Homo sapiens: one gene and its partners. The protein of the gene in region 3 interacts with the protein of the main gene of each other region in a pairwise test. Each region holds a gene or a part of one and is shown on either strand. Other genes may lie near its edges.

Region 1 (3,698 bases), on a different chromosome or scaffold from region 3:
CTTGCTCACAGGCATTCTACATTTCAAAATAAAGAGAACGAAAAGTTCTTTAGGGGAAGGCAGTTCATATAAGTACTGCCCAAAGTGTTAAGAACGTTGTTTCTATTTTAACTTAATTGGATGGAAGTGCAAATATTTTAAAGGGGAAAACTTTCAAGATTTAGGCACACTTGGTAGTCTCAAATCCAAGAATAGAAATAAATTTGCATGCTTTTTTTCATGTATACTCTTTAAAATTTTAAGTCAATTATACTATGTTCTCTGTTGAAAAAAAGCAGTTAGAAAATTAGAATATGAAATGTGAGTTCTGAAAAGACAAAAGTAGTTTTCAAGTATGGAATTAGTTAAGATCAAGGCCAGATTTTTCTTATCGAGGTTTTTGGGTGGTATTATTAACACTAACCAAAGAAATTACTGTACCTTCCTGAGGAGTTTCAGATTTGCATAGTTACCAGGTTGCTTCATTGAATCCAGCTTTTTTTTTATTGGGGTTTTCAAATTAAGCCTTTTATAAAAGTGTAAGTAGATTAGGCTTGACAATAAAGCTAATGTCTGCAACCCTTGAATCTCTTCTAAAGTAATCTTCCTTTTGGTTGTTTCAGCTGTCATTGCTGGTGGAGTTATTGGCTTTCTCTTTGCAATTTTTCTTATCCTGCTGTTGGTGTATCGCATGAGAAAGAAGGATGAAGGAAGCTATGACCTTGGAGAACGCAAACCATCCAGTGCTGCTTATCAGAAGGCACCTACTAAGGAGTTTTATGCGTAAAACTCCAACTTAGTGTCTCTATTTATGAGATCACTGAACTTTTCAAAATAAAGCTTTTGCATAGAATAATGAAGATCTTTGTTTTTTGTTTTCATTAAAGAGCCATTCTGGCACTTTAATGATAAAATCCCATTGTATTTAAAACATTTCATGTATTTCTTTAGAACAACATAAAATTAAAATTTAACATCTGCAGTGTTCTGTGAATAGCAGTGGCAAAATATTATGTTATGAAAACCCTCGATGTTCATGGAATTGGTTTAAACTTTTATGCGCAAATACAAAATGATTGTCTTTTTCCTATGACTCAAAGATGAAAGCTGTTTCATTTGTGTCAGCATGTCTCAGATTGACCTTACCAAGTTGGTCTTACTTTGTTAATTTATCTGTTGTCCCCTTCCTCTCCTCTGCCCTCCCTTCTTGTGCCCTTAAAACCAAACCCTATGCCTTTTGTAGCTGTCATGGTGCAATTTGTCTTTGGAAAATTCAGATAATGGTAATTTAGTGTATATGTGATTTTCAAATATGTAAACTTTAACTTCCACTTTGTATAAATTTTTAAGTGTCAGACTATCCATTTTACACTTGCTTTATTTTTCATTACCTGTAGCTTTGGGCAGATTTGCAACAGCAAATTAATGTGTAAAATTGGATTATTACTACAAAACCGTTTAGTCATATCTATCTAATCAGATCTTCTTTTGGGAGGATTTGATGTAAGTTACTGACAAGCCTCAGCAAACCCAAAGATGTTAACAGTATTTTAAGAAGTTGCTGCAGATTCCTTTGGCCACTGTATTTGTTAATTTCTTGCAATTTGAAGGTACGAGTAGAGGTTTAAAGAAAAATCAGTTTTTGTTCTTAAAAATGCATTTAAGTTGTAAACGTCTTTTTAAGCCTTTGAAGTGCCTCTGATTCTATGTAACTTGTTGCAGACTGGTGTTAATGAGTATATGTAACAGTTTAAAAAAAAAGTTGGTATTTTATAAGCACAGACAATTCTAATGGTAACTTTTGTAGTCTTATGAATAGACATAAATTGTAATTTGGGAACATAAAAACTACTGAATAAATCATGTGGCCTAATATTGAAAATGTCACTGTTATAAATTTTGTACATTTTTGATCAAATGTACATCTCCCCTTTGCTAACGGCCGTCTGCTCTCAAGGATGACGTGGGTTTGATTTCTAAGTGTTTCACAGTGTCTGTAAATCAAGACCAAAGAGCCTGTCGATGAGACTGTTTATTACCAGATTCACTTCTGAATTGGCCAGAGGAAATCTGAATGTATTATCCTGTGTGTGTCTAGGTAGAGATATTGGAAGGCTGCCAGGGGATTTCGAAGTTTGCAACCTTTATAGGATAACTGATGGCAATATTAAGACAGACGCCTGCTTTTGCAAATAACTTACAAGACTGTAAATTCCAAAGATCTGAATGGGGCTTTCCTGATGTTGGTATCTAAGGCTTAGGCCTATAGATTGATTTACCTTTGGAATTGTGCTCCAAATGTCTACTGAAGCTTAACCGAAGAACTAATAAATGGACTACAGTAGCTCACGTTACAGGGAAGGAGGGTAGGCAGGGAGGCTCTGTGTGTTAAAATGAGGGTCTCACTGCTTTAGGATTGAAGTGGCTGGAAAGAGTGATGCCTGGGGAAGGAGATGGAGTTATGAGGGTACTGTGGCTGGTACTTTCTGTACTAAACATTTCCTTTTTCTATTTTACCACTAATTTTGTTTTAAACTGTGAGCCGTCCAAGTCAGAAGAAGACAGCAAAAAAAGCAACTTTTCCAACATACAATTTACTTTTAATAAAGTATGAATATTTCATTTTGAGAACATTCCCTGGAATTGCCACATAATTCATTAAAAACATTTTTTTAAGCAACACTTGGAACAGTGTTTACTTTAAATCCTTAATGGCCTTAATTAATTCTCAGATTCCTGCCCCATCACTTACAGAACCAATTCACTTTAGAGTGACTAAAAGGAAACGATAGCCTAGCTTTCTAAAGCCACGCTGTGTCCCTCAATTACAGAGGGTAGGAATGGGTATACCTCTAACTGTGCAAAGCAGAGTGAAATTCAATTCATAGAATAACAACTGCTGGGAATATCCGTGCCAGGAAAAGAAAAATTTCTGGCAAATATTTTGTCACTGCTGTAAAGCAAAATATTTGTGAAAGTGCCAAAATAAAGTCTGTCATGCCAAAAGTAAATCATTGTATAGACTGACATCCAGTTTTCTTCAACTGTACACTTTCTGCTTAGTTTTTTTTTTTTAAGATGCAGTAAATAATACTATAAAAAGTGTTAGTAATGATTACTGAGTTCAGGAAAATTTTGGTAAAATGTAAATATTAAAGCCAATGTGAAAATTTCCTGTTTCCTTAACCACATGTAAACGATTTCTCTTGAGTGAATATGGCTTTGTGTTTGAGAGACTTGAGATAGTCACACTGTCCCATTTTCAGCCCGTAGGGGGAATAGGAAGCACTTGGGTTTTATTTTTGTTTTTCAGTTTTAGTTGCAGGTGCGTAGTACCTGAATTTCAGGATTAGGACCTGTTTAATAAAAGTGAACAAGATTATAAAAATTGCCATTTCTTAAGGGTTGATAGTTTCTCATCAAACGTTTACTGAATTTTTGTCCATGCACTTTTTTGCAAGTTAGACAAAATGTACTTGTTATGGATGTAGTCTGTTAGGTCTAGGAGAGTAAGCTAATTAAATAGAATATGATTACTTTCTTCAAGTGTCCCTAAAGAAACTACTGTGTCCTACTTCATAGTTCTAAGGAGCTTATTTCTTCAATATCTTAGACATTTTGAAACATCAAGGAAAGATGTTAGGTGAGCAAAAATATAAAACCTAGAAATATTGTGGGGTTAATTTTATAAGTGTGATCTTTATAGCATTACTATAATT
Region 2 (3,820 bases), on a different chromosome or scaffold from region 3:
CCTGCCGGTCTAACCATTGCCTAGTCACCACTTCTCCATGAAGAGAATCACCTCAAGTCCCCTTGAACGTTCCCCCTGCTCGCACATCCACAGTCACAGATGCTGGGTCTGTGTTGACATCTGCCACATCCCAGACAATGTGGTGTGTGGCCAACCCGTCCCCAAGGCCCTCATGCCCAGGCTGACTAGTGCACTCATAAGCCATGTCTTTCTTCTCTAGCCCAAGGGTGACCCTGATGCTTGCTAGAACCGGTAATGCTTGATCAGCCGGGGACTCCGAGCTCCATGAGCTTTCTGCATATCCTGGTTTCTCTTACATAATTAATGTGAGCATCAAATCTAGTCAATTTACTCTAACTGGAAAACAGCTAGGGTATATTACTGGATCGCTTTCTTAAAGGGCAAGGATGACAGATTAAAATAGAAATACAAGGCAGTAACAAAGAGAAGCAACGCATTTTTCTGAAATAATAAAGCCCCCACGTCCTGCTCTCCACCCTGCAAGGGGGCACACATGCTACAGCAGGCGGTGGACAGCAAAACAGCAGACGGCGGCATGATCTGATGGTGCTGCAGGCCGGCCCGCCCATGTCCTGGCTCCGCTCCCACTGCGCCGCTGGGCCAGGCCCCGCCCACACCCCGCCCCACCCCACGGCACCGCTGGGCCAGGCCCCACCACACCCCGCCCCACGCCACAGCACCGCCCCCTCGGCGCAGGACACGCACGCAGCAGCAGGCGGTGACGGTGATCTGGATGGTGTTGCGGCCTGGCTGGCACACATGCTTCAGGTAGAGTGGCTTGTGCGAGGTCTTGTTGTCGCCACGCTCGATGGTGAGCGGCGTGGCATTGACGCTGACCTGCACCGAGGCTGGCCAGTTGGTGTTCATCTGCCGGTCCTCGTGGTGGTAGCACTTGAATTGCAGCTCCAGGTCAGGCCTGCTCAGGAAGATGGGTGGACACCCAGAAAACGGGCCCTGAGAGTGTGGGAGGAGGAACAGAGCCTCGTGGGGGTCAGGTGGGGGCCAGGCGGAGCTCACCTCATTATCAGGGTCTTGTAGACTGAGTCTCGCAGCTGGAAGACATGGTTGCTTACAGCCAGGTTGTGCTGCAGGCGGAAGGGCTCCAGGACCACCCCATCGCGCACAGGGAAGGTCAGCCGCAACTCGTCACAAGGCCCGCTTCCTGGGAGCAGAGGCCACTGGCTGTGAGCTGGGTTGCCCCAGCCAGAGCGTCTTGTGTCACTCAAGGAGGGCAGCGGCTCCCCAGCCACCTTCCCCGCAGGGACCTTGGTGAAGGGAGCCCCTCCTGTCAGGCACTGCTTGGCAGGCCTGAGTGGTGCCCTGGGGCTGGGGCCATGGGCAGCATCTCTCCTGAGGCCTGGGCATTCGGTCGTGATGTTCTGTCTTGCCTCCTGCCTCAGCAGTCCAGCCCAGTGTCCCCTAAACCATAATAGGGGAACATGTCCCCAGCCCAGACAAAAGGTGTTTCCAGTGCTTTCAGAGAGACTGGGAGGCCAAGGTGTGTGAGAGCCTCCTGCAATTGCCCTATAGCTCTGTTTAGAGTTCTACGATCCCAACTTCTGCTGCTGTGGTCTCCCTGGAATGGGCTTCCGGGGTTCATAAATCCCCTGAAATTATATACAACATTTTGTGCACAGGGGAGAGAAGAGCCACAGCCTCCTTTGCAAAGAAAGCCACAAACAGAACAAAAAGGTGAAGGCTTGGCACTAAGCGACTTGTCTTTAAGAAGATGGAATCCTTGGCCTTTTTTTTTTTTTTTTTTAAGACAGGGTCTTGCTTTGGGACCCAGGTTGAAGTGCAGTGGCAAGATCACACTCACGGTAACCTTGAACTCTTGTGCTCAGCCTCCGAAGGTGCTGGGATTACAAGTGTGAGCCACCACACCCAGCCCTTTTCTTAGGGATATGGCAGCCATCCCCTGTCCCCCAAGCTCCTACAGGACTCTCTGGAGTCCTGTGATTCCCCCATGCCCACCCTGGCCTTGTCACCCCGCTGTCCCAAGAGTGGACAGACTTACCAGAGGGCGATGAGTGCAAGGAGTTGAGGTTGGGCTTGAGATCAGGCAAGAAGGGAGACTTGACCTCTTGGTTTGGTGACATGTAAGGGACGCTGCTGCTTGGGGTCATGGGTGGCGTGGGGTTCCCTGGCAGTGGGGAACTGGGATAGCCCGGGATGGAACGGGTAGGCTGTAGGGTTGAGCACAAACAGTCAAGGCAGATTGCCAGGGTGGATGGGAGTGGAGTCTGTTCACGGCGCACCCACTGGGAACCATGATAACAGAGGTGGACAGGAGGCGGCCCCAGGGGTGCCTGCCCGGTCGCCCTCTCTCCATATGCCCACCCTGTGAGCCTCCCGGCCCATCCTCCCGGCCAGGCCCCCTACCCCACTCAGGCCAGGTTGGCTGTAGCTGACGCTGCCCCCGTTGAAGCTGGCGCCCTGCCCGTTGAACTGCTCTGTGGGCTGCGGGAGAGAAAACTGCATGCACCTGGGGCTCCAACCTGACCCCTGCCGGGCCCCCTGGACCTGACCCTAGAAGCCCACCATACACGGTCTTCTTTACACTCTCTTGTATTTTCCAAATAATCTACAAGTAACACTACTTAAAGCAATCATAGCCACAGAGGAAAATGATCAAACAGGTTGGAGGGGCTGAAAAGACAAAAGCACGCTAAGCCCTCCTCCTCTCCTCCCCCAAGCTGCACCACCCGGCGCACCCAGGCTCCCAGGGAGGTAGGCTCTGCCCATGCACCCAGAAAGGGTACATGGCCAGCAGCGAGGGCCTGTCCTCTCAATGGATTTCTCTGCAGCAAGTAGAAGGAATGACACTTTTCCATAAAGAACATTCAAATGTTTTGGGTACCCACCTGCTGCTCCCTGCACAGGATACCCCTGAGATATATGAATCTTGTAGAGGGTCCTTTCGGAACTGGATCCCAAACCCCAGGAGCTGCTCCTGCACTGGTCAGAATGCCCCCACCCCCCACCCCCCATCTCCTGTAGAGCTGTGGTCCATGAGCACACATGGACCTACACATCCTGCTGGCCCCTTTAGCCACCCTGTCGCTCTCGAGGACAGGACTGCCCCAAGGTCCCCTGTCCCACAGCACTCAGCACGGAGCCCGGCACAGGGCCTGGAGGAGCCTGCCCTACCTTATAATGCAGTCCCGTGGGGCCAGGCACGGACAGGGACTGGGTCATGCCCTGCTGCAGGGGCAGCCTGTGCCCAGGGTAGGAAGGGGAGGGGGCAGGGGGCTGCCCAGGGCTGGGCGCAAACTGGGCGGTGCTGGGTGCATACTGGCCTCCTTGCAGATACTGCTGCCCTGGATACACCTGAAAAAGAGGCAAAATGCCCGAGGGGAGAAAAAAGGCATCAGGGGAGCTGGTTCCAGAAGGAAGTAGAGTCTCATGTGTGGCAGGGTTCGGGGAATGGAGATTTCCTGGTTCCCTTGAAGATCCTGCTGTGACACTGTCAGGCACAGGCAGTTCTCACATGCAGAAGCCTGTTTTTTTTTTTTTTTTTTTTTTTAATTTGAGACAGTCTCACTCTGTTGCCCAGGCTGAAGTGCAGTGGTGCAATCTTGGCTCACTGCAGCCTCCACCTCCTGGGTTCAAGCAATTCTCCTGCCTCAGCCTCCCAAGTAGCTGGAATTACAGGTGCACACCACCACGCCCGGCTAATTTTTTTTTTTTTTTTTTTGAGATGGAGTCTTATTCTGTCACCCAGGCTGGAGTGCAGTGGCATGATCTCAGCTCACTGCAACCTCTGCCTGCTGGGTTCAAGCAATTCTCCTGCCTCAGC
Region 3 (3,600 bases):
AGGGAGAGGAGGGGGATGCTCGTCTTCAGGGATGGTCTTGGGGGGTTGTCCCCCTCCTTCTGGCCTTGGAAGACTCTTCCCTTTCCTTCTTCCCCTCCTCCCCTTCCCCCACCAGGCAAGCCAAGGAAGCCAGAGAAAGGCCCGGAGAGCCTGGCTCCCAGCTCCCGCGCCACGAGTCAGCAGGGTCCTGCCCAGGCCTGACTCCCAAACCCCTCCGCTGAGGGAGGGCCACTTCAGTGCCACTGGGGCGACGCTTCCCTGGAGATGGGAAGTGGGGTGAGAGGCCTTGGGGAAACCTGTGGGCCGGAGCCTCCTGTTTCTGCCAGTGGTCTTTCTAGCCCAGCCCTCCCTCAAGCCTGAGGCTGGCAAGATGCTCACACTAAGCCCGGGACCTCAGCAGTACCATCTGCACCCCCAGGGACCTTAGCCCGATTCATGCCATCTTGGATGGCCTCCCCCAGCACTCAATGGCTCAGCCAACTTCCTCCCCCTCCCACAGGCACATCTCTAGAAGCCAGACAGGAAGAGACCACCCCCCCCAAAAAAAGAGCCCTGAAGACCTCTGCTTCCTCCCCCCACTCTTGAATATATTAAATTGTGCAGCTTGGCTCTAACCCCGCCCCTTCAGATCTCCATGGCAACCGGGCAGCATTCAAGTCCGAGTCTGAAGCCAAGTCCATCCAGTGCCAAAGGGGGGCTTCAGCTTCTCCCCTGACTTCCCCAGAGAGTGAGACCCAACATTCCACAGGGGGATGAGAGGGGAGGAAGAGTTGGGGGGGCCTCAGTCCTCAGCCCCCTCTTCCTCTGTGTGGGGGGCCCCAGGGGGGTCCTCGGGCTCAGGGGTCTGCCCGCCAGGATGGGGGTGGGGATGGGGGTGAGGGTGGGTGCCGGGCTGGGATCCCGGCCCGTCCTCGCCCTGCACATAGACGCTCAGCCCCTCGTGACTAGGCTCCTTGCCGCAGGCCTGGCAGCTACAGTGCAGGATCTTCTCCACCAGCTTGTCCACCCTGGGCACCTCCTCGTGGCCCGGGCACTCCAGCGTCACCTGCAGAGGGCAAGAGAGAAGCAGAGGCATGTTCCCAAAGGTCTGGGGCAGGCAAGGCAGCCCCTAGGGTAATACTTCCTCATGGGATCAAGAATCCCAGAGCCCACCTGTGATGCCCAGTTAGCTCTGGGGTCCCATGGGGAGGGGGAAATTGAACCCCTGCACAAGCCACCAGAGCTGTCTCCTCACATCCAGTCCTGCCACCTTCCCACCCATTCCCCACCAGCAGCCACCAGTGTGGCCTGCCCCTGCTAAAATCGCCCCCACCGCCGCGATCCCCCTGCACTTGGAGACAAACCCTGACCCCTCACTAAGGCCACCCAGGACCTTCAGGTGCCACCAGCTGGCTGGCCCCCCTACCCCTGACCCTGCACCACTCTTACCAATCCTGTGCTTGGGCTCTGCCTCAGGGACTCCGCACATGCTGTTCCCTTTGCCTGGAAGGTTCCCCCCACCCACCCCCCTATCCCCGCCGACTACCACATGCCCTAAACTGCGCCTTTGGGTCTGAGCTCAGACTTCACTTCCTCAAAAGAGCCCCACCCCAAAGCCCAGCCCAGCTGAGGCTCACCCTGCAGGAACCCCATCTACCTCCTACTCTGCCCCTATCATCACCCATCTAAGTACCTTTTTTCCTTCTCCCTCCCTTCCTCTCTTCCTTCCTCCCTTCCACAGAGCGCCTACCCTGTGCCAGCTCTGGGGACACAAAGACACATTTCCTTCAAGGAAATCAGAGTCTAGTGGGGGAAACAGATCTGTCAAAATCACCCGGATGCAGGTGGAAGACTGCAGGTGTGAAAGGTGCTTGAAGCGGAGGCATACTGTGCTCTGAGAGCCAACGGTACCAGGGTGTGCCCCAGTCAGGGGGCCTGGAAAGGGGCCCTGAGGAAACGCTGCTTGGGCCAAGGGCAGAAGAATGAATAGAAGTGAACTAGAGAAAGGGGACAGAGGTGGTGTTCCAAGCAGGGAAAAGAACAGGTGCAAGGGCCCTGGGGTAGAAGCGAACGGAGCAGGTGCGAGGCACTGAAAGAAGGTGGCTGTGTTAAGCGTCAAGCTACTAAGGAAGGCAGGAAGCAGGAGGAGGCTGGAAAGGCCACTGAGCCAGGCCATGCCAGGTTCTCGGGACAGGGCAAAGATTTTGGTCTCATCCTATAACAACAGGAAGCCCCTGAAAGGACTTCAGCCCATGAGAGACATCAGAATGGAACTTCGGGAACATCCCTGTCCTGTACAAGTTGGTGTCAGACTTCTGAGCCATCCTGTGGGGAGGCCCACATTTGTATCCCCAGCACAAGCCCTTCACCCTGCACACAGTGGGGCCTTTCTAAGGCCCTGTGGCCATCTGCTGGAATACAGGAGCCTGGGGAGAAAGGCCAAGGCTGGGGCAGGCTCCGGGCCGAGACTGGGTGGGGCAGGCAGGCAGTACTCACAATCTCCCACATGGACTGGGCTGGCATGCAGGAGTCACAGTGAACCAGGGACTCTGTGGACTGTGGGAAGGTGTTGGGGACGCTGTAGCTGAAGCACTGTCCTAGGCACGCCCTGTGGGAGGAGAGGTCACCATGCCTGTGTCACTGTTGGGGAGGCAGGGATGGGCAGCCCTGGTCCTCTTCCTCCCTCCTTGGACCCCTGTCCGCATCCCCCCACCCACCCCTTGGGTCCCACCTGTTCTGGATGGACTTGGCCTCACAGCCGCTGTGGCCCACGATCTGGGTGATGTTCTTGGCTTCGCACCAGGCACTCTTATCTGGGAACAGTGCCAGCTTGTTGATGGGTGGTGGGGCAGCCAGTAGCATGGCAGGGAGGACAGCCCCCACCAGGACCCGAAGCATCATGCCCGTGGCCTCCAGAGCCCTAGAACGGAGCACAGGTGCCAGGTGAGGCACAGCAAGGTGCAGGGGGCCGGGTAGTGGTGTTACAGCATGGACTCTGGCATCCGACTCCTTGGCGCAACCCCAGCTCTCCCACTTACTAACCAAGTGCAACTTTGGACAAGTTATTTCTCCCCTCTGAATCTCACAATTGGAGCTGGGAGTGGTACCTACATCAGATGGGTATCTGGAAGGTCAGATGAGATATTAAATGAGCCTAGCAGATAATACACATTCCATATGTGTTGGTTGGTTTTACAACTTCCTAAATTGCCTTGAGCAAGTTACTTTTTATCTCGGTGCCTCGGTTTCTTCATCTAAAAAGGGGAGATGGTGCCACTGCCTGGCACAGGATTGCGATTACGAAGTGTTCAAGCACATGTCAAGTGCTGAACAATTACTACCTCCTTTCTCCCTTTGATGCTGTGAGTCACCCAGGAAAATACACAAAAAGCTGTCCACACAGCCCTGGAGGGGCTGGCCACACACCATGTCTCCTTGAAAGCTACTGCAACCATTGTCAGGATTCTGATGTTTGAAAAGTTAGCCTTAACCTTCACGTTGCTGTGATTTCTTTTTGGTTTTGTTTTTTGAGAAAAGATCTCACTCGGTCACCCACGCTGGAGTGCAGTGGCATGATCACGGCTCACTGAAGCCTCGACTTCCCTGGGCTCAGGTGATCCT

The links.
Region 1: the proteins of NBL1 (region 3) and SDC2 interact in binary tests that used the Homo sapiens proteins (3 or more experiments, as listed by UniProt).
Region 2: the proteins of NBL1 (region 3) and ZMIZ2 interact in binary tests that used the Homo sapiens proteins (3 or more experiments, as listed by UniProt).

Annotation. Positions count from the first base shown.
Region 1 is NC_000008.11:96,608,783-96,612,480, forward strand, and holds the end of SDC2 (syndecan-2 precursor), read left to right. Parts: intron 1-602; coding exon 603-766; 3' UTR 767-3,008; downstream 3,009-3,698. UniProt on the Homo sapiens protein: Cell surface proteoglycan which regulates dendritic arbor morphogenesis.
Region 2 is NC_000007.14:44,758,812-44,762,631, reverse strand, and holds part of ZMIZ2 (zinc finger MIZ domain-containing protein 2), read right to left. Parts: intron 3,352-3,820; coding exon 3,172-3,351; intron 3,069-3,171; exon of another isoform or gene 3,057-3,068; coding exon of another isoform or gene 2,886-3,056; intron 2,482-2,885; coding exon 2,404-2,481; intron 2,208-2,403; coding exon 2,039-2,207; intron 1,211-2,038; coding exon of another isoform or gene 1,184-1,210; coding exon 1,039-1,183; intron 938-1,038; coding exon 727-937; intron 1-726. UniProt on the Homo sapiens protein: Increases ligand-dependent transcriptional activity of AR and other nuclear hormone receptors.
Region 3 is NC_000001.11:19,654,311-19,657,910, reverse strand, and holds part of NBL1 (neuroblastoma suppressor of tumorigenicity 1 isoform 2 precursor), read right to left. Parts: intron 2,900-3,600; coding exon of another isoform or gene 2,881-2,899; coding exon 2,711-2,880; intron 2,588-2,710; coding exon 2,476-2,587; intron 1,046-2,475; coding exon 782-1,045; 3' UTR 1-781. Other genes in the region: MICOS10-NBL1 (neuroblastoma suppressor of tumorigenicity 1 isoform a precursor), read right to left, coding at 782-1,045, 2,476-2,587, 2,711-2,899. UniProt on the Homo sapiens protein: Possible candidate as a tumor suppressor gene of neuroblastoma. May play an important role in preventing cells from entering the final stage (G1/S) of the transformation process.